Homo sapiens: one gene and its partners. The protein of the gene in region 7 purifies or fractionates together with the protein of the main gene of each other region. This does not show direct contact. Each region holds a gene or a part of one and is shown on either strand. Other genes may lie near its edges.

Evidence for each region.
Region 1: the proteins of ASXL2 (region 7) and DYNC1I2 purify together in Homo sapiens (affinity purification with mass spectrometry, with the first as the bait; one study listed by BioGRID). This does not show direct contact.
Region 2: the proteins of ASXL2 (region 7) and KRT9 purify together in Homo sapiens (affinity purification with mass spectrometry, with the first as the bait; one study listed by BioGRID). This does not show direct contact.
Region 3: the proteins of ASXL2 (region 7) and CBS purify together in Homo sapiens (affinity purification with mass spectrometry, with the first as the bait; one study listed by BioGRID). This does not show direct contact.
Region 4: the proteins of ASXL2 (region 7) and CPNE3 purify together in Homo sapiens (affinity purification with mass spectrometry, with the first as the bait; one study listed by BioGRID). This does not show direct contact.
Region 5: the proteins of ASXL2 (region 7) and MTX2 purify together in Homo sapiens (affinity purification with mass spectrometry, with the first as the bait; one study listed by BioGRID). This does not show direct contact.
Region 6: the proteins of ASXL2 (region 7) and NUDT21 purify together in Homo sapiens (affinity purification with mass spectrometry, with the first as the bait; one study listed by BioGRID). This does not show direct contact.

Annotation. Positions count from the first base shown.
Region 1 is NC_000002.12:171,739,469-171,742,968, forward strand, and holds part of DYNC1I2 (cytoplasmic dynein 1 intermediate chain 2), read left to right. Parts: intron 1-3,500. UniProt on the Homo sapiens protein: Acts as one of several non-catalytic accessory components of the cytoplasmic dynein 1 complex that are thought to be involved in linking dynein to cargos and to adapter proteins that regulate dynein function.
Region 2 is NC_000017.11:41,569,260-41,573,331, reverse strand, and holds the start of KRT9 (keratin, type I cytoskeletal 9), read left to right. Parts: upstream 1-1,272; 5' UTR 1,273-1,339; coding exon 1,340-1,981; intron 1,982-3,111; coding exon 3,112-3,194; intron 3,195-3,316; coding exon 3,317-3,473; intron 3,474-3,744; coding exon 3,745-3,906; intron 3,907-4,072. UniProt on the Homo sapiens protein: May serve an important special function either in the mature palmar and plantar skin tissue or in the morphogenetic program of the formation of these tissues. Plays a role in keratin filament assembly.
Region 3 is NC_000021.9:43,073,036-43,077,138, reverse strand, and holds the start of CBS (cystathionine beta-synthase), read left to right. Parts: upstream 1-1,303; 5' UTR 1,304-1,369; exon of another isoform or gene 1,370-2,636; intron 2,637-3,797; 5' UTR 3,798-3,873; intron 3,874-4,103. UniProt on the Homo sapiens protein: Hydro-lyase catalyzing the first step of the transsulfuration pathway, where the hydroxyl group of L-serine is displaced by L-homocysteine in a beta-replacement reaction to form L-cystathionine, the precursor of L-cysteine.
Region 4 is NC_000008.11:86,559,435-86,561,998, reverse strand, and holds the end of CPNE3 (copine-3), read right to left. Parts: 3' UTR 501-2,564; downstream 1-500. UniProt on the Homo sapiens protein: Calcium-dependent phospholipid-binding protein that plays a role in ERBB2-mediated tumor cell migration in response to growth factor heregulin stimulation.
Region 5 is NC_000002.12:176,275,942-176,279,441, forward strand, and holds part of MTX2 (metaxin-2), read left to right. Parts: intron 1-3,500. UniProt on the Homo sapiens protein: Involved in transport of proteins into the mitochondrion.
Region 6 is NC_000016.10:56,444,833-56,448,332, forward strand, and holds part of NUDT21 (cleavage and polyadenylation specificity factor subunit 5), read right to left. Parts: intron 3,158-3,500; coding exon 2,957-3,157; intron 1,858-2,956; coding exon 1,794-1,857; intron 1-1,793. UniProt on the Homo sapiens protein: Component of the cleavage factor Im (CFIm) complex that functions as an activator of the pre-mRNA 3'-end cleavage and polyadenylation processing required for the maturation of pre-mRNA into functional mRNAs.
Region 7 is NC_000002.12:25,749,488-25,752,987, reverse strand, and holds part of ASXL2 (putative Polycomb group protein ASXL2), read left to right. Parts: intron 1-2,574; coding exon 2,575-3,292; intron 3,293-3,500.

The DNA of each region.
Region 1 (3,500 bases), about 150 Mb from region 7:
AAAATCAAGCCTATACATACCATTTCAACTATAAATATTCATTATGTATTTCTAAAAAATAAAACCTCTTTAAAAAATACTACCATATCATTATTAAATGCCCCAAAATGAACATTGGCTCCTTATTTTCGTCAAATGGCCTATCAGTGTTCAATTTTTTTTTTCTTTTTACTATTTATTTGAAGCAGGATCCAAAGGAGGGCCATCCATTTGCGATTGACATATCTCTTTTTTTTTTTTTTTTTTTTTTTTTTTGAGACCGAATCTCACTCTGTTGCCCAGGCTGGAGTGCAGTGGCACGATCTTGGCTCACTGCAACCTCTGTCTCCTGGGTTCAAGTGATTCTTATGCCTCAGCCTCCTGAGTAGCTGGGATCACAGGCGCCCGCCACCATGCCTGGCTAATTTTTATATTTTTTGTAGAGACAGGGTTTCACCATGTTGGCCAGGCTGGTCTCAAACTCCTGGCCTCAAGTGATCCGCCTGCCTCAGCCCTCCTCGGCTTTCCAAAGTCCTGGGATTTTGAGCCACCAAGCCCAGCCACAATTGACATACCTTTTAAGTTCCTCTTTAAAGTAGGGCTTGCATCCCTCTTTTTTTTCTTGCTGTTTTATTCTTGAGGAAGAAACCAGGTTGGTGTCTGTCAAGTTGGTCCTGTAGGGTTTCTCAGTCTCGATTTTGCATTCCTGTGGTGTCATTCATATTAATGTGTGTGGTTGCAGATAGTTTATGTTTCTGTAATGAGACGTTTACCCTCATAAATGATTTGGTTATCCACCAGACCTTACGTTAACGTCTCTTCAGTCTTTTTGGTCATCTGAAGCTCATTCTATAGTACGTGATGCAGAAGGTGCCCACAGGTGCATTATTCCCATATTCCACAAAAGTACATGATTATGAAGATTAGTTTGATTGTTTATAAAATCCATGACTTACGTTTTCTTTCTTTGCATACCTTAGTTACTCTGTGGACTTCTGGAAAAAAGCATTGCTGTCACAAAATCTGATCACAATCTGATTTTCTTTTTCCTACTTGCGATTTGGTCTTTTTAAAAAATGTGGGTGATCAAATGATTTTTTCCCTTTTCTTTAGAGGGTCAGTGTTCCTAGATACACAGGATATCCTTTCAATATGTAGTTTCAAGCTGTCTTTCATTTTAGGAGAGTTCTTTTGAGTTGTTTTTGGTATTTGTTCTGTATTACTGCTTTGGTTTTCTTCTTCAGGACCTGCCATTGTAGATGTACTTTTGCTGATCTTCTTTATCACTTTTTTTTTTAGATCACCTTATCTCTTCTTTTAAAATAAGTTTCTTTTTAAGTAACAGTTTTATTGAGCAAAACCCTTATACCATGAAATTCACCCTTTTAAAGTATACAATTCAGTGGTTCTTAGTATATTCACAGAGGCACGCCTAATTGCCAGTATCTAATTTTAGAACATTTTCAAATTTTAGAAAGAAAAATTATGCCCATTAGCAGTCACTCCACATTCTCCCCTACCCCCACAGCTCCTGGAAACCACTAATCAATCTACTTTCTATCTCTTTGGGTCTGCCTGTTATGGACAGTTCATGGACATTTCATGGAATCTTGCAATTGTGTACTGGCTTCTCTCACTTTGCATAATGTTTTCAAGGGTCATCCTTCATATTGATACTTCTTGTATCAATGTATTGTTCCTTTTATAGCTGAATGATACCCCATTGTATAGATATACCACTTTTTGTTTATACATTCATCAGATGAACACTTCAGTTGCTTCTGCTTTTTGGCTATTATGAATCATGCTGCTGTGAATGTGCAAGTTTTTATTTCTCTCGGGTATATACCTAGGAGTGGGATTGTTGGGTCACATGGTAACTAATTAGCATTTTGAGGAGCTGCCAAACTGTTTTTCAAGTGGCAGCACCATTTTACATTCCCCAGCAAGGTATGAAGGTTCTGATTTCCTGTATCTTCACCAACATTTGTTACTTTTTTATACTAGCTATCCTAGTGGTATGAAGTGATACCTCATTGTGGTTTTGATTTGCATTCCTCTCACGACTAATGATGTTGAACATCTTTTCATGTACTTATAGGCTATTGTAAGCACTGTGGACACAGTGATGTATCAGATACATGGTTTGCAAATATTTTCTCCCATTGTGTAGGTTCTCTTTTCACTTTCTTGATATCATTTGAAGCCCAAAAGTATTTAATTTTGATGTAGCTCAGTTTACCTACTTTTTCTTTTATCATTGTGCTTTTGGCTTCTCAACTGAGAAATCATTGCTGAGTTCAAGGTCACAAAGATTTACTTGTATGCTTCCTTTAAGAGTTTCATAGTTTTGGCCAGGCACGGTGGCTCACGCTTGTAATCCTAGCACTTTGGGAGGCCGAGGTGGGTGGATCACCTGAGGTCAGGAGTTCAAGATCAGCCTGGCCAACATGGTGAAACCCCTTCTCTACTAAAAATACAAAAATTAGCTGAGCATGGTGGTGCACGCCTGTAATCCCAGCTACTTGGGAGGCTGAGGCAGGAGAATCGCATGAACCCAGTGAGCTGAGATCATGCCACTGCACTCCAACCTGGGCGACAGAGCGAGACGCGGTCTCAGAAAAAAAAAAAAAAAAAGTTTCATAGTTTTACTTTCCATTTAGATCTGTGATACATTTAATTTTTCTATATGATGTAAGGAAGGAGGGATCCAACTTTATTTTTTTTATTTTTTTATTTTTTGAGACAAGGTCTCACTCCCATCGCCTAGGCTGGAGTGCAGTGGTGTGATTTCAGCTCACTGCAGCCTCGACATCCTGGGCTCAAACCATCCACCCATCTCAGCCCCCAGGGTGGCTGAGACTATAGGTGCATGCCACCATGCTCAGCTAATTTTTGTATTTTTTGTGGAGATGGGGTTTTGCCATGTTGCCAAGCTGGTCTCAAACTCCTGAGCTCATGTGATCCACCCACCTTGGCTTCTCAAAGTGCTGGGATTACAGGCATGAGCCATGGCACCTGGGCCAGCTTTATTCTTTTGCATATGTATATCTAGTTTTCCCAGCACCATTTCTTGAAAAGACTATTCCTTTCCTATCTAATTTTCTTGACACCACAATAACTTTTATGGAATCTGACTGAGATCCTTTTCTTTGCTATTGTCTACTAGTGAAATGAATTTTTGTGTATTTTTAGGAGGGAGGGAATGGGCAAGGATAACTTTCCTAGTTCATTTTCTAGGTTAAAGCTGTCTCTTCTCTGGCTTTTGCAAAGTGAGAATACATGTACCTTGTGCTTTCTGAGATGTGCCTTTTCTGCTTCTCTCCACCACTTCTGTCTGAACTTACTGCTTTGTCTCTTTTGTCTGGCATTCTACAACTTGGATTCTACTCCCAGCAGTTTCTCTTCTGTGAGACTTTGTCTTGGAAAGGAACTTTGATTTGTTAATTTTGAGAGTTTATAGCACCCAGACTGTACCATGAGAACTTACTTATACTGCACTGTAGTCTGCTTGCATTTAC
Region 2 (4,072 bases), on a different chromosome or scaffold from region 7:
ACTGGTGAAGTGATGTTGTCAGACATGGATTAGAAAGGTCATTCTGGCTGCTGTGCAGGAAGAGTCAGAGGGAATGGGAGAGGCAGGGAGGGCAGTTAGAAGCTCATGGCTAAGGTCTGGGTGAGGGCAGAGTTGACGGGGAGTTAGGGGGCTGAATGATCAGAGGCAGCCGAACATTTTTTGAGCACTTCTCACAAGTCTCTTACTAGGAGATGGACAAACTACTCATATCAACCTTTTTCAAAGGAGGAAACTGAGGCACAGAGTATTTAAGTAACTTATCAAAGTCACACAGCTCATGAGCATGGAGCTGGATGGAGCTCAGGTAGGCACACCGGAGACCAGCGTGTTCTTTACCATTCTCTTCTGGCCTTGGTGACCAGAATATACATCCAAGTTTCTGCCAGGAGCAGGGATAAGTCACACATCTCTGTATCCCCTCCAGAGTTCTGTATGGGGTAGGCACTCAACCAAGGTCAATTCCACACTCCCTGCTGGGCCCTGCAAAAGGACCAGGACAGTCGAGCCACTTGCATTCCTGCTCAGAGGTCAGCTAGTGTCAGCACCACCTTGTTTATTTGGTCCACTTTCTTCTTCCAGCCCTTTGTGTGAACTCTGCACGCTGTCCTTTAGTGCTGGCGGGCATGGTCTCGGTGCCCGTCTCCATCTTTTGGCCATGCCAGTTGCCTCCTCATCAAACTGGAGTCTCCCAAGGGCAGAGCCTCAGACTCTGCAGAAAGCCTCGAGGATCCTGAGAGCAAGGATTGGTTTTCATCCATTTGGGGCTCCACAAGGGCAGGGGCTGTGCCTCCCCCTCCTCTATGATAACTCCTTAGTACCCTAGTTCCAGCTCAGCTCACAGTGGGCACAAGGTGGGAGCAAGGAGGCATGAGGGATGCAGACAGTAATGACCATCAATAGAGGAGGTGACTCTGCTCTTGGGAGTTTCTATCCCGAAGGGGCTAAGTCTCAGACCTGCTGTTGGGGCCAGCCAGAGACCAGACTCCAGGATCTAGGTCACCCCTGTGGCAGTACAGCTGATTTATGGTGGCCCTGACAGCCTAATGTCATCAAATTATCCCACACAATGGAGAGAGGCTGGGCCGCCCCCAGGCAGTCACCAAAGGACGCTGAGCCTGGGGCAGCCCGGCTGCCTCCGTATCCCAGACCTCCCTCGGGTCTGTGGGGGGAGGCTGGCACAGAACAAGGGCACACCCAGGCGTGCCACCTTCAGCTGGGGGTATAAGTAGGCAGCCCCAGGGACAGCTCTGTACCCTGCACTTGGGAGCCGGTAGCACTCCTATCACTGCTTCTCAACCCGTGAGCTACCAGCTGTGTCATGAGCTGCAGACAGTTCTCCTCGTCCTACTTGAGCCGCAGCGGCGGGGGTGGCGGGGGCGGCCTGGGCAGCGGGGGCAGCATAAGGTCTTCCTACAGCCGCTTCAGCTCCTCAGGGGGCGGTGGAGGAGGGGGCCGATTCAGCTCTTCTAGTGGCTATGGTGGGGGAAGCTCTCGTGTCTGTGGGAGGGGAGGCGGTGGCAGTTTTGGCTACAGCTACGGCGGAGGATCTGGGGGTGGTTTTAGTGCCAGTAGTTTAGGCGGTGGCTTTGGGGGTGGTTCCAGAGGTTTTGGTGGTGCTTCTGGAGGAGGCTATAGTAGTTCTGGGGGTTTTGGAGGTGGCTTTGGTGGTGGTTCTGGAGGTGGCTTTGGTGGTGGCTATGGGAGTGGGTTTGGGGGGTTTGGGGGCTTTGGAGGTGGTGCTGGAGGAGGTGATGGTGGTATTCTGACTGCTAATGAGAAGAGCACCATGCAGGAACTCAATTCTCGGCTGGCCTCTTACTTGGATAAGGTGCAGGCTCTAGAGGAGGCCAACAACGACCTGGAGAATAAGATCCAGGATTGGTACGACAAGAAGGGACCTGCTGCTATCCAGAAGAACTACTCCCCTTATTATAACACTATTGATGATCTCAAGGACCAGGTAGGTGCAGGAAACTGTCTCTGTCTTGGTCTCTTTCTCTTTCATTCTTTATCTTCCAAAAAAGTTAAAATGCTAAACTCTAAGCTCAGATAATAGCCAGGGAATCCACCTTTTGGAAATGTACGCTTTCATCAGAAACAAACTTGTGTTTGGTTTCTGGGGATCCCAGGATAGGACTTTGGCCTGTGCTCTGAGTGTTCACTTCCATTTCCTCAACTTTCAGAGTTTGGGCAGAGCAGAGAGGAGACCTGGGTTAACGTGAGCTGAGCTGGGACTGGATGTGGAACCTCCTTTAGGTTTGGTCTAAGTCAATACTTTCTCTTCCTTTGTACTTCTCCTGGGCTTCTTTAGGAGTGTATCTTGATCTTTTAAGGTATTTTGGACCTGACTGTACATGTTGGTTATTCAAGTGTTGGAGAGGATCCAGAAATCTGGGAATGGAAGCTATCTATCCATCCATCCTTCCATCTATCCCTTCCTCCCTCCACCCACATGTCTATCTATCTATCCATTTATTCAGCCACTCAGTTCAGTGAGTGCCTACCCTCAGGGTTGCTCTGGGTAGACATAGTGATGTGCTAGACCTAGTTCTGGTGGAGCTCACGGTCTGGCTCTTCAGTATTCTCAGTGATTCCTCTTGTTTTAACTCCTGCATGTCTCTGAATGTGCTGTTTCTTCTACTCTAAACCTCTTCCATTTATTTATTAATGTTACATCTTAGCCATCCTTCAGGGCCCAATTCAATTGCCAGCCACCTCCTTCCTGAAGTCTTTCTTGATCTCCCATTGCCATAAGCCACCTCTCCTTTCCTTGAACTCTTTTAGGACACTTTTGACTTTGTAGTCAATGGTGGGCTCCCTGAGGAACAGGATGTCAGTAATCTCTAAATCCTACAATGCCCTTTGCAGTAGATCTTCAAATATTTGTTGAATGAATGAATGAAGGCCACACCAAACATCTTCGCTGAAGGCTGGAAGGGGTCTGTGCCATGTCCCAGCTGTTGGAAGTTCCTCATTCCTCTTGAGAATCTTCCTGGATGGAATCCTCACCTCCTGTGGCTTTGCCTGGCCTCTTGCCCTCTCAGCAGTGGTCCACAGCATGATATCATGGCTGTGTCCTTTTTTTTTCAGATTGTGGACCTGACAGTGGGCAACAACAAAACTCTCCTGGACATTGACAACACTCGCATGACACTGGATGACTTCAGGATAAAGTGAGTCCTGCTCCTCTTCTCCTCTCCTGTCATCAGCCCTTACCCCTGAACCTCAGTGCTCTGGAGGTCCTGGTAGGGCCTGGTTCCCTCTTGATTGTTTTCTAACCCTGGCTGGTCTGCAGGTTTGAGATGGAGCAAAACCTGCGGCAAGGAGTGGATGCTGACATCAATGGCCTGCGGCAGGTGCTGGACAATCTGACCATGGAGAAGTCTGACCTGGAGATGCAGTATGAGACTCTGCAGGAGGAGCTGATGGCCCTCAAGAAGAATCATAAGGAGGTAGGTTGCTGGGGCTTATGGCTTACCGGGAAGAGGGAGGAGCAGAAATGCAGAGACAGCAGGGGAGCTTTGGAACATTACCTGGGAGACACCCTCTCCTTTGCTCTTGAGGACACTTTCAACTTCTCCTTGGCATCACCTATGGTAGTGGTTGGGCTTTGGCTTCACAACTGTGTCCCCTTTTTGTACCCTGGGGGGACCAGAGGGAGAATTCTGAAAGGTGGTGCAGAGGACTTTATCCGTGACCTCATCTCCCCTTCTTCCCTGGCAGGAGATGAGTCAGCTGACTGGGCAGAACAGTGGAGATGTCAATGTGGAGATAAACGTTGCTCCTGGCAAAGATCTCACCAAGACCCTCAATGACATGCGTCAGGAGTATGAGCAGCTCATTGCTAAGAACAGAAAGGACATCGAGAATCAATATGAGACTCAGGTGAGCAGAGTGGGCTGCCCATTCATCCTCCTCCCCTCCATCTATTCCTATCTCCATCCCTCCCACCTCCCATTCCTTCATCCTCCTATCTCTGCATCTCTCAGTGCAGCTGTCATTTATCCATCTTCCAATGGAAGTCATTCATCCATCTTCATTCACTGCATAC
Region 3 (4,103 bases), on a different chromosome or scaffold from region 7:
TTCTTATAAAGACTGGACAGGATTTTTTTTTTTTTTTTTTTTTTTTTTTTTTTTTCTGGAGACAGTCTCGCTCAGTCGCACAGGCTGGAGGACAGTGGCGCGATCCCGGCCTCCAATGCCACCTTCCAGAGCCTTCATGATGTAACTCCATCCCTGTCCCCTCCCCACATCGCCGGCTTTATTGTTCTTCGTGTCAGTTCCTGCCAGTGGACATTTAATTCTAATTCACGTCTCACTCCCTCCCCTACTGTGAGCCCCACGTGGCAGAGACCGCGGCGGAGCTGCGCGGGCCGGAGGAGGCTGCGGAGCATCGCTCTGACCTGAGCCGGGGACGCTGCGGAGGCGCAGCACGTTCCTCTGCCCAGAGCTGATGGGCACCGTCCGTGTCTTTCGCTGCAGGTCCGGGGGGAGACTCGGGGGCCTGGGATCCCCCATTTAGCCATAGGGCGGGGGGATCAGGTTCAGCCTCTGAAAGTCCAGAGCACGATGTTTGGGAAACGGCCCCGCCCGCGGCCTCCGGGACCTGGCGAAGGAGCCCCGCGGGGCGCCCCTGCTACCACCCTGCGCGGAGTCGGCCCCGTCCCCGAGAGCGCCCGGCAGCCCCTGGCCGTGGGCCGCACCGGAGCCGCGCAAGGCGACTGTTCTGCGCCTCGGCTCGGGGTTCGGACCCGGCTCTGGGCGCGGTCACGCGGGGCGCTGCGCACGGCGTCCGGCGGCCACAGAGCGCGGCCATCGAGTCCCGCCCCGGCGCGGCGCCCCCTCCCGGGCCCGCGACACACGCCCTCGGGGTCGGTCCTCGAGGACGCGCAGGGCCCCCCACCCACCAGGACGCACGTTTCAAGCTCATCAGTAAAGGTTCCTTAAATTCCCGAAGGGCAAGAAGTTAACCAAGTAAAACAGCATCGGAACACCAGGTAGAAGACACCACCGGGGTCCGCGGGTGGGGGTGGCTGGAACCCGGGGCGGGCGGGCTCAGGCGAAGAGGAAGGCGGGGGAGGGGGCGGCGACCCGGGTCTGCGGTTGAATCAACAGGGCGTGGGAATGGGGCGGGCGGACTGGGGTGGGGGCATGCCGGGGTCCCGGGGAGGGCGGGGGTCGGGCAGGCCGGAGGGTCCCAGGCTGCGGCGGGGTGGGGAAGGGGTGGGGGGGAGGGGCCCGGGCTGGGTGGGGTGGAGGAGGGGCTGGGGGGGCGGGTGCTCTGCCACGAGACATTGGCCGGCGCCGGCCTCCGCCCCCGCCTCTCCGCCAATCACCGCCCGCCTGCTCCCCTCGCCGTGGGTCCCCGCGAGGCCGCCACCCCGGGGTCGCCGTCTCCGCCTCGCCGCAGTCGGGGCAGCCGCTCGCCCCTCTTTTCCATGTATCCGTCCAGGTGAGATCCGGCCCCACCGAGACTCGCTCCCCTCTCTGGACAGAGGATCTCAACTGGGTCCCGGTTTCCCTCTCCGCGCCTCCGCCCAGAGTTGCATCATCTGCACCGAAAGGCGGCGAGACAGGGTCTCCCAAGACCCCCGCCCCACCGGCGCCCACGCCTGCGGTCTTGACCGCCCAGAAGATGGGGGCTGGCCGTGCACGTGGCCCCGGGCTCCCACCCCAGCCCCCGCGCCGGCGGAGTGGACCCCACTGGCGGCGAGTCCTGGAGCGTGGAGCAGGGACGCGGGGTGGGAATCCGGGGGAGATGCACGTTTCGGTGCCCAGCATTGAGTTCGCTGCATTGTGGATGGGAAATGGCTGTTTGCAAATCGCCCTTTTTGGCGGACCGTGTGGGGTGGCGGTAAACGCTGTCGTTGCGCGGGCGGCACGCGAGGTGGGTGCCCGCTGGGGGAGGGACGCGGGGCTCTGCCCAGGTTGCGTTCGGGGGATGGAGGTTTTCCTGGGACCTCACTTCCCTGAGCCCCAGGCGAGACCGCAGCTGAGCTGTAGGATGCAAGCGGGAGGCGGAGCGTGGGTGGGAGAGCGGAGCGCGAAATTCTCGGCTTCCCGAGGATCTTCTGGGCTTACTTGTCCCCAGCTTTGTCCCAAAGTGTCGCTTCCGGAGGCGGAGTGGCCGGCGGTTTCCGGGTCTCAGTAGGGTCTGGATCTCCCACCTGGAAACCTAGAGGAGTTTCCCGCTCTCCGTGCGCGTGGCCTTCCCCAGGCCCCTCCGGGAGTGCTGGCGCGCGAGTGCAGGGGTGCCCCGGGAACGTCGTGACCCCAAGGGGGTCTTGTGGTTTAAGGAGCGAACGGAACCGGCCAGGCGATGCCAGCTGAACCCGCCTTCCCGGGACGCACGTGCATCCGGCCGCCCGGCGCTGTTGTCTTGGGGAGCCCGCGGGTTCGGGTCTGGGTCGCCTGGCGAGCTTTCCGCCGAGCGCCTCTGAGTTCTACAGAGCCCCGACGGCTTGCGATCTGCGTTCCCGGCAGTCCCTTACCTTGCGAGAGAGGGCTCCAGGGCGAGGCGAGGGGCCAAAAGCAAGGCGCTGGGCCGCCTGCGTCTGCCGGGGCCTCGGGTCCACGGCTTTCTGGAAGATTCGGCGGCGGAGCATGCGCGCCCCAGGCCAGACAGGGCCTGTGCCAGACGGAGAGTCCCTTCCCGTAGGTGACTCCCGCGACCCGCGGAGGAAGGTGCTGCTCCGCTCACGGCGGCGGCTTCTTACAAGGTTGGGATAGAAAGAAAAGCGTGGGACACGAACCTCTGAAAGCGGGTGCATTTTTCTGGGGAAGAGAAGATCCAACGCCTTCGGATTTTCAGACAAGTCCGTGGTCCCAAGACCTTGAAAGCACCACCCTCCAGGGTCGTTTGAAGCCGCTTTGGCCCCCAGTCTGGTGAATTGCAAAGGTGGAGGGGAGGCTGGGAAGTCCAGGAGGCCAAGCTGAGGCCTGGGTAGGGCCTGTGCGCAGAGACCACCTGAACAGCATACTCCAAGGGCTTCCAAAGGCAGCCGGCTTCCGCAACTTTTTCTTTTTTAATAGGCTTTTTAAAAAAAAAGCAGTTTTAGGCCGGGCGGGGTGGCTCACTCCTATAATCCCAGCACTTTGAGAGGCTAGGCGGGCGAATCACCTGAGGTCAGGAGTTCGAGACCAGCCTGGCCAACATGGTGAAACTTCGTCTCTACTAAAAATACAAAAATTAGCCGGATGTGGTGGCGGGCGTCTGTAATCCTACTCAGGAGGCTGAGACAGGAGAACTGCTTGAACCCGGGAGGTGGAGGTTGCAGTGAGCCGAGATCGCACCACTGCTCCAGCCTGGGCAACAAGAGGGAGACTCCGTCTCGAAAATTTAAAAAAGAGCAGTTTTAGATTTAGAAAAATTGAAAAAATAGATAGAGTTCCCCCAGTTTCCCCTGTTATTAAGATCTTAAACTGATGTCGTATATTTGTTACTTTATTTATTTTCTTTTATTTTTATTTTTATTTTTATTTTTTGAGACGGAGTCTCGCTCTGTTGCCAGGCTGGAGTGCAGTGGCGCGATCTCGGCTCACTGACCTCCCCCTCCCGGGTTCAAGCGATTCTCCTGCCTCAGCTTCCCGAGTAGCTGGGACTACAGGTGTGCGCCACCATGCTTGGCTAATTTTTGTAGTTTTAGTAGAAACGGGGTTTCACCATGTTGGCCAGGATGGTCTCGATCTCTTGACCTCATGATCCGCCCGCCTCGGCCTCCCAAAGTGCTGGGATTACAGGCGTGAGCCACCGCGCCCGGCCTATTTGTTACAATTAATGAGCCAATTCCACGATCACATAACCATTGTTGACATTAACCAAAGTCCGCGCTTGAGTCAGATTTGCAGAGTTTTCTCCTCACTGCCCTTTTCTATTCCAGGATCCCATGACAGATTCTGTTGTCACGTCTCCTTACAGAGTTTGAGCGGTGCTGAACTGTCAGCACCATCTGTCCGGTGAGTGACGGCTGTGGACTTAGTCTTCCTGTTGAATGTGGGGAATCAAAGGAGGGTGAAGCGGGGCTGAGCCCAGTCCTGGGCCCTCTGAAGAAGGCAAGGTGGGAGGTGGTCGTGGGTTCCTTGTCCCCCCAGAGGAGGGGCAGCAGATGGGACCTCGCCTGGCTTTCTTTTTGCTTTCTTCTTTTTTTTTTCTGTCTCATCTATTTCAGGTGCGTGTGTGTGTTTTT
Region 4 (2,564 bases), on a different chromosome or scaffold from region 7:
AACTCTATACTTGCTGTTGGCCTGACAGCTTCATAAGTGCTTTTAACCTTCTTCACCTAGCTAACTTTCAGGTCTTAGCTTACATGGCACATCCTCAGGGAAGTGCTCCTTGCCTCTCAGATGGGTTAGGTCTCTCTCTACTGTATGTTGTTTCACGCACAGATCTCACATCTCTATAATTACTTGCTCAATGTTTTCTCTCCCCCACTAGACCATTATTTCTACAAAGGCAGCAATCGTGGCTGTCTTGGTTACCACTGGCAAAGTCCTGCCCAATGCCCATGACAAAAGCAATTAAAACATTTTTTTTAAAATTAGGTGGTTACACTATCCTTCTTAACATGATTGATAATCTCAGGCCATTCTAGCTATAAGCTAAGAATCTTTCCTTTACTGTACCCAGAAGAGTATCTTGGACCCACTCAATATCTTTTAAACAAATAAATCCCATAAAATAATATCCCCCAAATTGTTTAATTCAGTAAAATATGAAGTCAAAGGCCACCTAAAACACTATATTTTATTTTTAACTTTTCTATTGTTTTGGTCACATGTAAAGAATAAAAATGAAAACACACTACTCTGTCACATCAAGAAATAACTTTATCCAAAAGGAATTCAAATGTAAGATATATTTAGCATCAATTCATATATTAGTAACTTACACATGTATTGTCAAGTATGACATCCATAAAAGCACAAAACAGTTTCTAACACGTTCCATCAAACTTCTGGCGTACTTTATGTGTCATTTCCATGACTACTAACCACATATATAGAGACTAGGGGATACTTAGTGAAGACAGCTTTCCAGGAAGTTTACAAAATTGAAGAAAAAAAAAGTATGTCCAAATATGGCATAAGTAGCAATGGGGCCCTGAATTTACTTTGGAAAGATTGCCTAAGGCACCACTATAATGAACAGTTGTAAATCTCTGATCAGACTTCAAATTTTTCTGGTCTTAAAATTGCAATTCTAACCACAAGGTTAGGTGACTAGATTAGCTGGTATATTATTTCCTCTGTGCCAGCATCTGTAAGAAATATTACATCTATCCTGGGCACCGTCACTCCGATATATATTTGTAATAGATCTGATTATATGAGGTGTGAAAGTCAATATGGGTAATTTTTCTTTAAATGCATTTTAAGAACAAACAGCACTTAAATGAATGGTGGCACAACAGGGAAAAGGACTATTTTAATGTAAAACAATATTAAATCAGCGTATGATGAGGTTGAGTGCTGAAACTGTGAAAACTGATAATTTAGAAATTGTAAATGCTTTTATTCAAAACTGTAAAAAGGCACCAATTACCCTAGTTTGCTGGAATCACAGTTCTTATGAATAATAGCATCTACTGATGAACATGATCATGAATTAAATGTTTTAAATTTTAAAACAATTTTAAAATAGAATAATTCTGATAAAATCAGAATATAAAATAATGAAGACCAAATCCAATTGACAGTGATTACCTGTTATTTGGCTGAAGAAAACCAGGAATGCTCATAACCAGCAGTTCCCAAGCACCTTGTGCAGGTGACTCAGGGGCTGCTGTGGAGCTGGTTAAGGAGAAGGAGGATATGCCCAGTGACTGGGACCCTGCCACAGCATCAAACAGATAAGCTCACTTCTGTCTGTTTTACTGTACATTGAGAATATGTGTAAGTCATTTTTTAAAAGGCTTCTTGTGATTAAAAGAGAAAATTCTGAAAACCACAGCAACATATCTATGCTGTTTCCAAGCATACAAAGAGAATTAGAACATCTGAGACAACTATGGCTCCAAACAATCAGAAGAAGGGTTAGTTTTCTTTTCTCCTATTGATAATGTCAAAATGATGTGTCATCTATTGAGCCATACTATGGAGTAGCAGGCTACTAGTTAGATGCCTTCCCCAGTTAACAGCACATATCCAAAGGACAGCTAGCCAAGTGGGAAGGTGGTAGGTAAATGCTCATCTGGGCTAGGCAACCACCACAGCAAGCAGGTCCCCTCTCAGCCTGGCCTTGGCAATGAGCTGCTTCTGAGAAGCCACAGCTATCTGTGGTTGAGAGCTCACTCCCTTGAGGCATTGCAGAGAACAAGAGACATGGGCTGTGGGGCAGCTTTTCAATAAAACTGAGAGGCACATCAACATGGCACTGTATGTGTCCACTTAAGGATATATGATAAACATGCAATTTCAAAAGGTAAATTATTAAAGATAATTGGCCAATATATAGATATGCATAGTTTTTAGCACATAGGCCCTCAATAAAATATTAGGATCTATTCTGAAAATGTAATGTTCACTAAGTAATACGCTGTAAAAGGTAAAAGTCAGGAAAAGAAATTCAACTCTTAAAAAAAAAAAGCACATAAAATCCACCCTATCTTAATGCAGCAGTTGGAAAAGTTTTCTTTTTTCTTTCCTTTTTCTAAGTTGCAGTAGGTTTTATACCTAATAAGGTATGCTGTAGACATAGGAAATATCACATTATTAAATTGTAAAATGCAATTTTGATTAACAGATAACTGGTATCGTGAGTTTAAAAATCAGATGAAAATGGTTCTTAA
Region 5 (3,500 bases), about 150 Mb from region 7:
TTACACTTTCTATGGATTTTGAAGTGAAAGGTCTAACCTGGGTTCTTATTCAGCTACTTCCTAGCTGTGTGAACTTGGGCAAATTAACTGCCTTTTTAAGCCTGAGATTTCTCATTTGTAAAATGGTGAAAATAATAATGTGTTACTTTAAAGATACAATTTTGGTAAAGCTTTAAAAATTTATTTGTAAATAACAGATAATTTAATTCAATAATATGAAGTATCTACATACAGTTATTGCAGTTATTAAAATTACTTAGTAATGTATCCTAGAATAATTTGTTATTCCAGGATGTTTATTTCAAGATATATACATTTGATATGCTCCAGCCATGTTTATTTTCATTATAAAATTGAATCTTGGTATAGGTCATATTGGCGGTCTGTTAATTAGAATTGCCATAGCTGGTTATTGATAATAAGAGTAAGCTTTTGAGCTACTGTGTTAAATGATTTATATACGTAATTGCTAATAATAACAATTTGGTCTTGTTAGGTATTTTGTGGATAAGAATACTGAAACTCAGTATAAAGGTTAGGAACAAGGTCATTGGAGTAAGAGCTGGAGTAAGCTCAACCCTGCTTCTTGTTGGCAGGCCTTTCTAGTCCTCAGTTTCCTCATTTGTAAAAGGGGATAATATATTTATAATGTATGTCAAGTATCTAGTATAGGGTGGTAGATAATAAATGTTCAGTACATGTTAGTTTCTATTGTTACTTTTATTGCCCAAGAGCCTTTCACCTTATAGTAAGGGGTCCTTTGAGGATATTAACTCTTAACATGTAGTATCCCATTACCATTTTGGACAGCAGAAAATGCCCAAAGTATTCTTACTTTTCTTTACTCATATACCATCTTTTCTGATTTATTACTCCACCGGTGCCTTGCCATATTTTAAGCACATCAGTTAGTTTCATCATACTATAATTTATTAATCTTTTGAAATAAGAACAATATCTGTTCTGTTCTTTATTTAGAAGCTCAGTAAACTATATAAAGGATGAAAAAAGAATGGTCGGAATATTCCATTTATCTCGTTGTGGGCATTTGGGTGCTTAATTATTTAAATTTATTAATAACTTCATTTAAGCAGTAGCATTAATTTATAGTATGAGCTAGGAAAGTAGTTTTGCAGCGTTCCATGGAACCCATATGTACGCATCTTGAAAGTGTGATTAAAACAGGTATGTTTTTAAAAATTTGTTTTTATATTGGTAATAAAGTGTTTTCATTCCATCCCTCCTCACATGAGTACTGGGGAATCTGGACTTGAAAAGCATTCAGAAGAGTTCCAGAGGCTAAAGGAAGTAGAAAATAAAGGTTTAAAGGCTTTTGTAATATAGAAGTGATGCTATTGCTCACAATGAAGAAAATGATGGTAAAGGCTTGTATATCCATGTATCAGAATATTTAATGATGACAGTTGCAACAGATAATTGAAGAAATACAATGCATTAAATTCATTTTTCTCTTTTTTGAGATGGAGTTGCGCTCTTGTTGCCCAGGCTGGAGTGCAGTGGTACAATCTTGGCTCACTGCAACCTCCGCCTCCTGGGTTCAAGTGATTCTCCTGCCTCAGACTCCTGAGTAGCTGGGATTACAGGCATGTGCCACCACACCTGGCTAATTTTGTATTTTTAGTAGAGACCGGGTTTCTCCACATTGTTCAGGCTGGTCTCGAACTCCCGACCTCAGGTGATCTGCCCACCCCGGCCTCCCAAAGTGCTGGGATTACAGGCGTGAGCCACCGTGCCCAGCCTTTAATCTTTTGCTCTTGAAAATAAAGATATTTTGTTATTTTTACTCAGTATTCTGAGGATTTTCCAGTATTGAGGAAGGCACTGAGGAATTATTAAAAAGTTATTGGACCGACCGTCACGTTTAAGAGAATTAAAAAAAAAACATATTAGTCATATGAATAATCTTACACAGTTGTGCTTATGACCTTGAAGATACGAAGCTGAGATTGAATGGTGCAGATGGTAAAGCAAAATAGTGACAAAATAGGTTATACTTCAGACTAGAGGCAAGATATAGTTTATTGACAGCAGTGGATCCTGTATTTTATTATACTGTATTGCTGAATAGGTTGAAACTGGTTTTTTTTTTTTTTTTTTTTTTTTTTTGAGATGGAGTCTTGCTCTGTTGCCCAGGCTGGAGTGCAGTGGGGTGATCTCAGCTCACTGCAACCTCTGCCTCCCAGGTTCAAGTGATTCTCCTGCCTCAGCCTCCCAAGTAGCTGGGATTATAGGTGCCCACCACCACACCTGGCTAATTTTTGTATTTTCAGTAAAGACGGGGTTTTACCATGTTGGCCAGGCTGGTCTTGAACTGCTGACCTTATGTGATCTGCCCGCCTCAGCCTCCCAAAGTGCTGGGATTATAGGTGTGAGCCACTGCACCTGGCCAAAACTAAATTCTTAACAGCAATATTATGTAAATTTTTGAAAACTTTGATAATAAGATCCCTTCAGAGGCTTGTTTTCTGCTAATGAAATAGTTCATAGGCTGTAATATGAGTTTTAATTTACTTAATGTGGTTTATTAACATTTTATACTCTGAAATTACATGATTTTTAGTTTTTAACTTAAAAGATTTTGGTGATGGGTGCCCCATAAAATTTGTCAGTCTTATTTCTTTGAAGACTTTTGAGTTATTAACGTTAGCCCAAGCTTGCCATATTTTGGTGAAAATTGAAAGAAAACGCCACCAAACTTTTTAATATTTTTCAAACATTTTTGAAGTTTCTTGATAAGCAGTTATCAGATGGACTGAAGATATCAAATAGAGATGAGATATTGAAAATTCAGGCTTCTCATTTTTTTTTCAAAGACAGAAGTTATAATATTCAGTAAATCCAGCTATAGACATTCATATATAGAAGTATTTGCCTTGCCAGTAAAAGGGATGCATGCTTTAATTTTTTATTGCTTTGTAAATGATCCTCTCCTCTATTCTTGAACACTTTTCTTATTTTTGTACGCTCTATAAATGAATTATGGTTTTGAACTTTTTTACATCAGTAATAAAAATGAAATTTGATTGGTTGGTAATAAAGAAGGTTCTTTTCATAAAAGCAATCATTTTGTCATGACAATTCTCGTTAACTGTAACTGTGTTGGCAAAATAGAAACCATAAAATGCATTTCACTGTTTTTATACACTTAGCTATGTTTTTTTGCTGATCATATATTTTATCTCTAAGAACTTGTATAAGCCAAAGAATTTCTTCATAACTTGATCTGTCTTTAGATGGAAAAAAATAGACTTTTGATGTGTATATTTATTACAGTGGATACAGTATCTTTGAGTATTACAATGGTATTTACCCCCACATCATATTTTATTACCTGGTCAATTTAGAGCACTAATCAGAACTTTATATGAATAAATTGTGTCATTTGTATAACATGAAGAGGCCATTATTATTCCAGTGTTTATTTCTGTAAAGTAATATTGGCAGCTGACTCAATGAACTAGCCTTCTTTTGACCTCCAT
Region 6 (3,500 bases), on a different chromosome or scaffold from region 7:
CATCCCAATCTGAAACTCCAAAATCTCAAACTTTTTGAGCACTGACATGATGCTCACAGGACATGCTCAGGCCGGGCGTGGTGGCTCATGCCTGTAATCCCAGCACTTTGGAAGGCCAAGACAGGCAGATCACCTGAGGTTAGGAGTTCTAGACCAGCCTGGTCAACATGGTGAAACCCTGTCTCTACTAAAAATACAAAAATTAGCTGGGCGTGGAGGCAGGCACCTTTAATCCCATCTACTCGGGAGGCTGAGGCCGGAGAATCGCTTAAACCCGGGAGGCGGAGGTGACAGTGAGACAAGATTGCACCATTGCACTCCAGCCTGGGTGACAAGAGAGAGACTTCGTCTCAAGAAAAAAAAAAAGGAAATGCTCATTGGAGCATTTCAAGTTTTGTATATGGGATGCTTAACTGGTAAGTATAATGCAAATATTCCAAAACCTGAAAAAAATCCCAAATCCTAACCACTTTTTTAATTTTTAATTTTTTTGAGTACACAAGATGTTTTGATACAGGCATGCAATGCGTAATATTCACATCATGGAGAATGGGATATCCACCCCCTCAAGCATTTATCCTTTGTGCTACAAACAATCCAATTATACTCTTTTAGTTATTTTTAAATTTACAATTAAGTGATTATTGACTATAGTCACCCTGTTGTGCTATCAAATAGCAGCTAAACACTTCTGGTCCCAAGCTCTCAGATAAGGAATACACAACCTGTATAAATATACTCCATATATACTTTGAACCAGTCCAGTTTTCAGCCCATGCATGCCCCCACTTTCATAAGTACCTAGCACCTTCAGTTCCTCAGTCATTCTGGTACTCTGCAATGCTAGATTCTGCCTGCCTGTCTGCTGGACTAAGGTTTCTGCTAAGTTAGTTATAATTTGCCCATCTGTTTTCCAGTTTCCAAAAATTTTGCTTTTGTGATTCTCTCATTTTGCACTCCCTCAACCTTAATGGACTTATATCTTTGTACCATACATTATATAAATGGAAGTCCAAGCACAGGAAAATGTTTAAGAGTTATAATACATTTTTAGAAATACTAGAAAGACAAACCAATAGGTCAAAAGTGGGAGAATTACGGGTGACTTTAGTTTTGTTTCTCCTTTGCTTTTCTGTGTTTGCCAAGCTTTTTGCACAGAGAATATATGAGCTTTGTAACAGGGGCAGGCGGCAATTGAATGTTAAAGAAGAAAACTAACATTGAAAACAATTTACAATCTCAAAATCCTCAGTATCTATGCATTTGGCCCCAAGTCTTTACATGCAGGCATTACAATGATTTTTAAAAAGTAGAATAATTTGGGCAAAGTCTAAAAAATATGTGAAAAAAGTGAAAACACAGGCATCTTTCTCTTTTCAAAATTCTATAGAGGCCTACTCTTGAACAAAACTACCTGCATTCAAACCTCTGGCTCTACAACACACTAGCTATATAACAAGAAGTAATTTAAACTTAATAATATCTACTTCCTACAGTTGTGGTGGTGATTAAAGGAATTAGCGCATGTAAAGCACTCAGAACAGTGTCTAGCACAGTAATACTTAAATGTCAGTTTTAATTTACCATTGCTGTGACACAGTTTAACATTTTAAAAATTGAAATAAGTGTAACTTCAACTTGTAAAAAAAAATCAACATTGTACTAACCTTCTGGAGTTTAAGTTGTATTTATTGAAAACTAAATATTCCAAAATAAGCATCCTTTTTACAAGACATTAAAAGCCAAATAACTAGTAAGTTGATGGTATTCAAAGTGGTTAAACAGAAAAATACCTCTGTCATTAAGCGTTTTAGTCCTTCAACTTCATCTTCTCCTGGGTTAAGTTCACCACCAGGTCTGTATAAAAGTTAAGAATTTCAGCTTTCAACTTAATACAATTTGGAGATAACAAATAACACAATAATTGTTATTTCTACCAAGTCACTAAGAACATATTTCAGCATAATAAGGCAATCAAAACAAGTATCAAAGTGAAGGGGGAGAATATGCTTGAATTCATGTCAATTCCCCAGACTAACAGTATACAAACCCTAGGTTTTTTTCCTCTTCGTATATATTTATTTTTATTTTATTGTAGATTCAACGGGTACATGTACAAGTTTGTTACATAGGTATATTGTGTAATGCTAAGGTTTAGGCTTCTAGTGAACCCATCACTGAAACAGTGAACATAACATCCAATAGGAAGTATTTCAACCCTCGCCTCCCCCTCACCCTCCCCACCTTTGGAGTATACAGTGTTTATTTTTTCCAACTTTATGTCCATATGTACCCATCACATAAACCCTAGTTTTAAACAAACAGAATATATAACATAGCACAAACATAAACAAAATTGCTAACCACCAGTCCATCCCAATCTCCTCTCTGGGAGCTATCTGATGATAATGGAGTCTAGAAATGCTCAGAGAGGAATGGATCACATTCTTTAGGCCTAAAGAATGGGAAACTTTTTCAAGAACGTCATCTAAGTATTGGAGACTTTTCTTTTTGGTATAATCTAGTCAAATAGTTACGGATCAAATGTTTGAGAGATGTAGGAGCTTAAATGATAAAACACTAAACTGTTATCCACAAAAACCTAAGTCATCTTAAGAACAGGAAATGCTAATCATACCAAGAAAGAAATATCAATTGTTCTTGGTAATGCTACAATGACATCTAGACATTGATCTTGGACTCAACTATTCCATGGGGTTTCTACCAAGCTCAATCATTAACATCAACAACATACAGAAACATACAGATTACTAGTTAGGAAAATAAATGAGCACTGCAATGGAGAAAAATTACTCATGATTTTCTCTTTCTAAAGACATCATTAACAGCAGTGTTTGTTGAAATGAATGACCGAGGGCTAAAATTGTATTCCAGAGCTGCATAAACAGCAATCCTACTAAAAACTGTCTTGCTGTTAATTTCCAACACTACTTACAGTTTGAAGAAAGTTGTTCCCAGCTGCAGCAGTAACACATGGGGTAGCCGGTGCTCATGTACAATCAGAACCCCTTCTACAGTCCTCCTCATTCCAATTTTATCAAATTCTTCCCTCATGCGCTGAAATCTGGCTGCAACAGAGCTGTCCTTCTCGTAGAGGGGCTCTTTTGTACCAAAAGTATAATTGGTAAGAGGGTACCTGTGATCCGAAGACAAACATCTAACATGAGAACTGAAGAATGTAATTTACCATGACAGACATTAGCATAAAGAAACCATGGTACAAAAAAAGTGCATATATTGTACTCAGACACAGGATTTGTACAGTTAACTAAAGTTAATGAAACAGCAGAGACTGGAATCTTGCTCTCTGGACTCTTAAAGCCAGAGCTTCCATTAGATCAAGCTGCTCCTCCATACTTTAACTTTCAAGTGTAGATAACACTATCCTTAAATGCTTAGAGAAATGGTTATCTGAACATTAGTAATCCTCTGGTTTTATACCATGGCTGCTATTTCAACATTACCAATTTGGCTAATAA
Region 7 (3,500 bases):
CTCAAAAAAAAAAAAATACATTTCTAAAAAAACTTTGAATTAAGAGTCCCTTTCTTTGAAAAGATTGGTTTTTCTTCTGGTTACTTTATAAGATAGAAGAATATTGAAGTTCTTTAGTTCTTTTTTTTTTTTTTCTTTTTTTGAGACAGAGTTTCACTCTTGTCGCCCAGGCTGGAGTACAGTGGCGCAATCTCAGACTCACTGCAACCTGTGCCTTCTGGTTTCAAGCAATTCTGCCTCAGCCTCCTGAGTAGCTGGGATTACAGGCGTGTACCACCACACCTGGCAAATTTTGTATTTTTAGTGGAGTTGGGGTTTCACCATGTTGGCCAGGCTGGTCTCGAACTCCTGACTTCAGGTGATCTGCCCTCCTCGGCCTCCCAAAGTGCTGGGATTACAGGTATGAGCCACCACTCCGAGCCAGAATACTGAGGTTCTGTCCACTTTTTATAGTAGTTAATTATCCCAAAATGTAGCTATCCAGAATCACTAAGGAATCTTAGGAATTTTGTAATGTGGACTATTAGAACCAACCTGTAATTAAAGAGCCTCTCCTCTGTAAAAGGCACTCTGGGAGATGTACATAGCTGAATCAAGATATAAATTCTGTTTAAAAGAGGCTGTAGCCTAAATCAGTTTTTCCCCCCCAACAAAAGATCCAACAGTGAAATTATAATGGGACATTTAAATAGATGGTAATGGAGATGTTCTGTTTGAAATAGGATTGAACACTTGGACTCCTACTTGTTAGTCTCCCTTCCTTCCTTCTGCACACCAATGGCAGCCCTTAAGAAGACCCGTAACCACAGCTTGAAAACTAAGTTCTCCTTTTCCTTGTCTCCAAGTAGTATTTATCCATCTCCTTCACAGTCATTTAGGAAATATTCCTATTGAGATTAAGAGTTCCATAAACTGCGGCCAGTTGCGGTGGCTCACACCTGTAATCTCAGTGCTTTGGGAGGCTGAGGTGGGCGGATCACTTGAGCCCAGGAATTCGAGACCAACTTGGGCAACATGGCAAAACCACATCTCTAAAAAAAATACCAAAAAATTAGCTGGGTGTAGTGGTGCGTACCTGTAGACCCAGGCTCAGGTGGAAGAATCGTTTAAACCTGGGAGGCGGAGGTTGCAGTGACCAAGATTACGCCATTGCACTCCAGCCTGGGCGACGAAGTGAGACCTTGTCTCAAAAAAAAAAAGAGTTCTATAAACTGATTTTTCTATATTTTTGGTATGAGCATTGAGCTATAGAAGTGATGTTTGGTACATTTAGACCATTATTGCAGGTAGCAGTAATTCTACAAATATTTGTTCATTCCCTCCTTTTTTTTCTCTTTTTCTTTTTTTTTTTTCAAAGACAGGGTCCCACTCTGTCCCTCAGGCTGGAGTGCAGTGGCACAATCACGGTTCACTGTAGCCTTAATCTCCCGGGCTTAGGCAGTCCTTCCACCTCAGCCTCCTGAGTAGCTGGGACTCCAGGTGCATGCCACCACACCCAGCTAATTATTGTATTTTTTGTAGGAGTGGGGTTTTGCCCTGTTGCACAGGCTGGTTTCAAACCCCTGTGCTCAAGCGATCTGCCCACCTCCCAAAGTGCTGGGATTACAGGCATGAGCCACTGTGCCTGGCCCATTCCCTCCTTCTTAAGCAGATAGAGGATTACAACAGTTCGTGGGTCTTTCTATTTTCAACTATTACTTTTTGTCAGCTTTTATAGAAAGACTGTTTTTGATTATTGCCCAGTTTTGTCCCTAACCATTCCATCTCAGAAGCACAGTACTGACTCTTTGAAGTCACCAAAGAAGGCTCATTGATTTTACATGTTGTACAGTATTCTAAAACATTAAGAAGAGTCACTAATGACCTTTACAGATTAGCCTAGCTTTTAGCCAAGCCACATTATGGATATCTCAATGGAACTATACCCTCAGAATAGCTTAGAGACACTCGATCTCAGAATTTTAGAGCTAAACCAAGTGGGATTTAAATGGGCTTTCCAAAACTCAGCTATAATTCTCAGCCTCTATAGAACATTGACAGCCAGCTGTCTCCTCAGGTCCTCTTAGATTTTTTGGGCCTGGGTTTGCACAGATATTGCAGAGAAGAGTTGACCACAATCACAGGGTGGAAGGGTCTTGGGCTTCCTTCAGTTCCCTTGCAGGTAGTCTGTGATGCATGCGTCCAGACAATGTGGCCCCTCTATAAGCAGAAGTAATAATAACTACTATTACTGAACTTTCATTATGTGTTAGGCAAGTACTTTATATGGATTAACTTAATTATCATAGCAACACTATGAAGTAATTAAACCTAGTGTACAATTGAAGAAACTGAAGTAAAGAAGGCTAGTCATTTACTTAATATCACACGGACGGTAGGTATCAGAGCCAGAATTTGAATCCAGGCACTCTGACTCCAGAACTTTCACTACTACTAATAGTGAAGATAATACATGAATACCTGCTGTGTCAGGGGTTCTCCTAGGCATTGTCATCTTCCATTATCTCTATTAATGAATGCTTTCGCAACATGGGCTATTTTTCAACTGGAATATTTCTTTTTTCCCCTTTTTAGTTCTGGCCTGAGCCTTGAAGATTCTAAGAAATTGACAGCTTCTCCCAGTGATCCCAAAGTAAAGAAAACCCCAGCTGAACAACCAAAATCCATGCCTGTGTCAGAGGCCTCTCTTATCAGAATAGTTCCAGTAGTCTCCCAGTCAGAGTGTAAAGAAGAAGCATTGCAAATGTCATCACCAGGCAGAAAAGAAGAGTGTGAAAGCCAAGGTGAAGTGCAGCCGAACTTCTCCACATCTTCAGAGCCCCTGCTTTCCTCAGCTCTCAATACACATGAGCTTAGCAGCATTCTTCCCATCAAGTGCCCAAAGGATGAGGATCTCTTGGAGCAGAAGCCAGTCACCTCTGCTGAACAGGAATCTGAGAAGAACCATCTCACCACAGCTTCTAATTATAACAAAAGTGAAAGCCAAGAATCTTTAGTTACATCGCCAAGCAAACCCAAGAGTCCTGGGGTTGAAAAACCAATAGTGAAGCCCACAGCAGGAGCGGGTCCACAGGAGACTAATATGAAAGAACCTCTAGCAACTCTTGTTGATCAGAGCCCAGAAAGCCTCAAGAGGAAGTCTTCCCTCACCCAAGAAGAGGCCCCTGTGAGCTGGGAGAAGAGGCCACGTGTCACTGAGAATCGCCAGCACCAGCAGCCATTTCAGGTCTCACCACAGCCCTTTCTCAATAGAGGGGACAGAATCCAGGTGCGAAAAGTACCACCTCTCAAGGTAAGAGAATGGAGAGAATTAGAAAAGCAGAGATCGTCTGAACCCTATGTTTTTGGTCATACCTACTAAATTTCAAGTAAATTGTGGTAGTTCTTAATGCAGAAGCAGTTGGATATATTTGATAAATATGTAACTATGGTCTTACACAAATAAAATGATAGATGGGCATTTAGAACTGCAGTCCTACATACAGGTCTTTACTGATGTT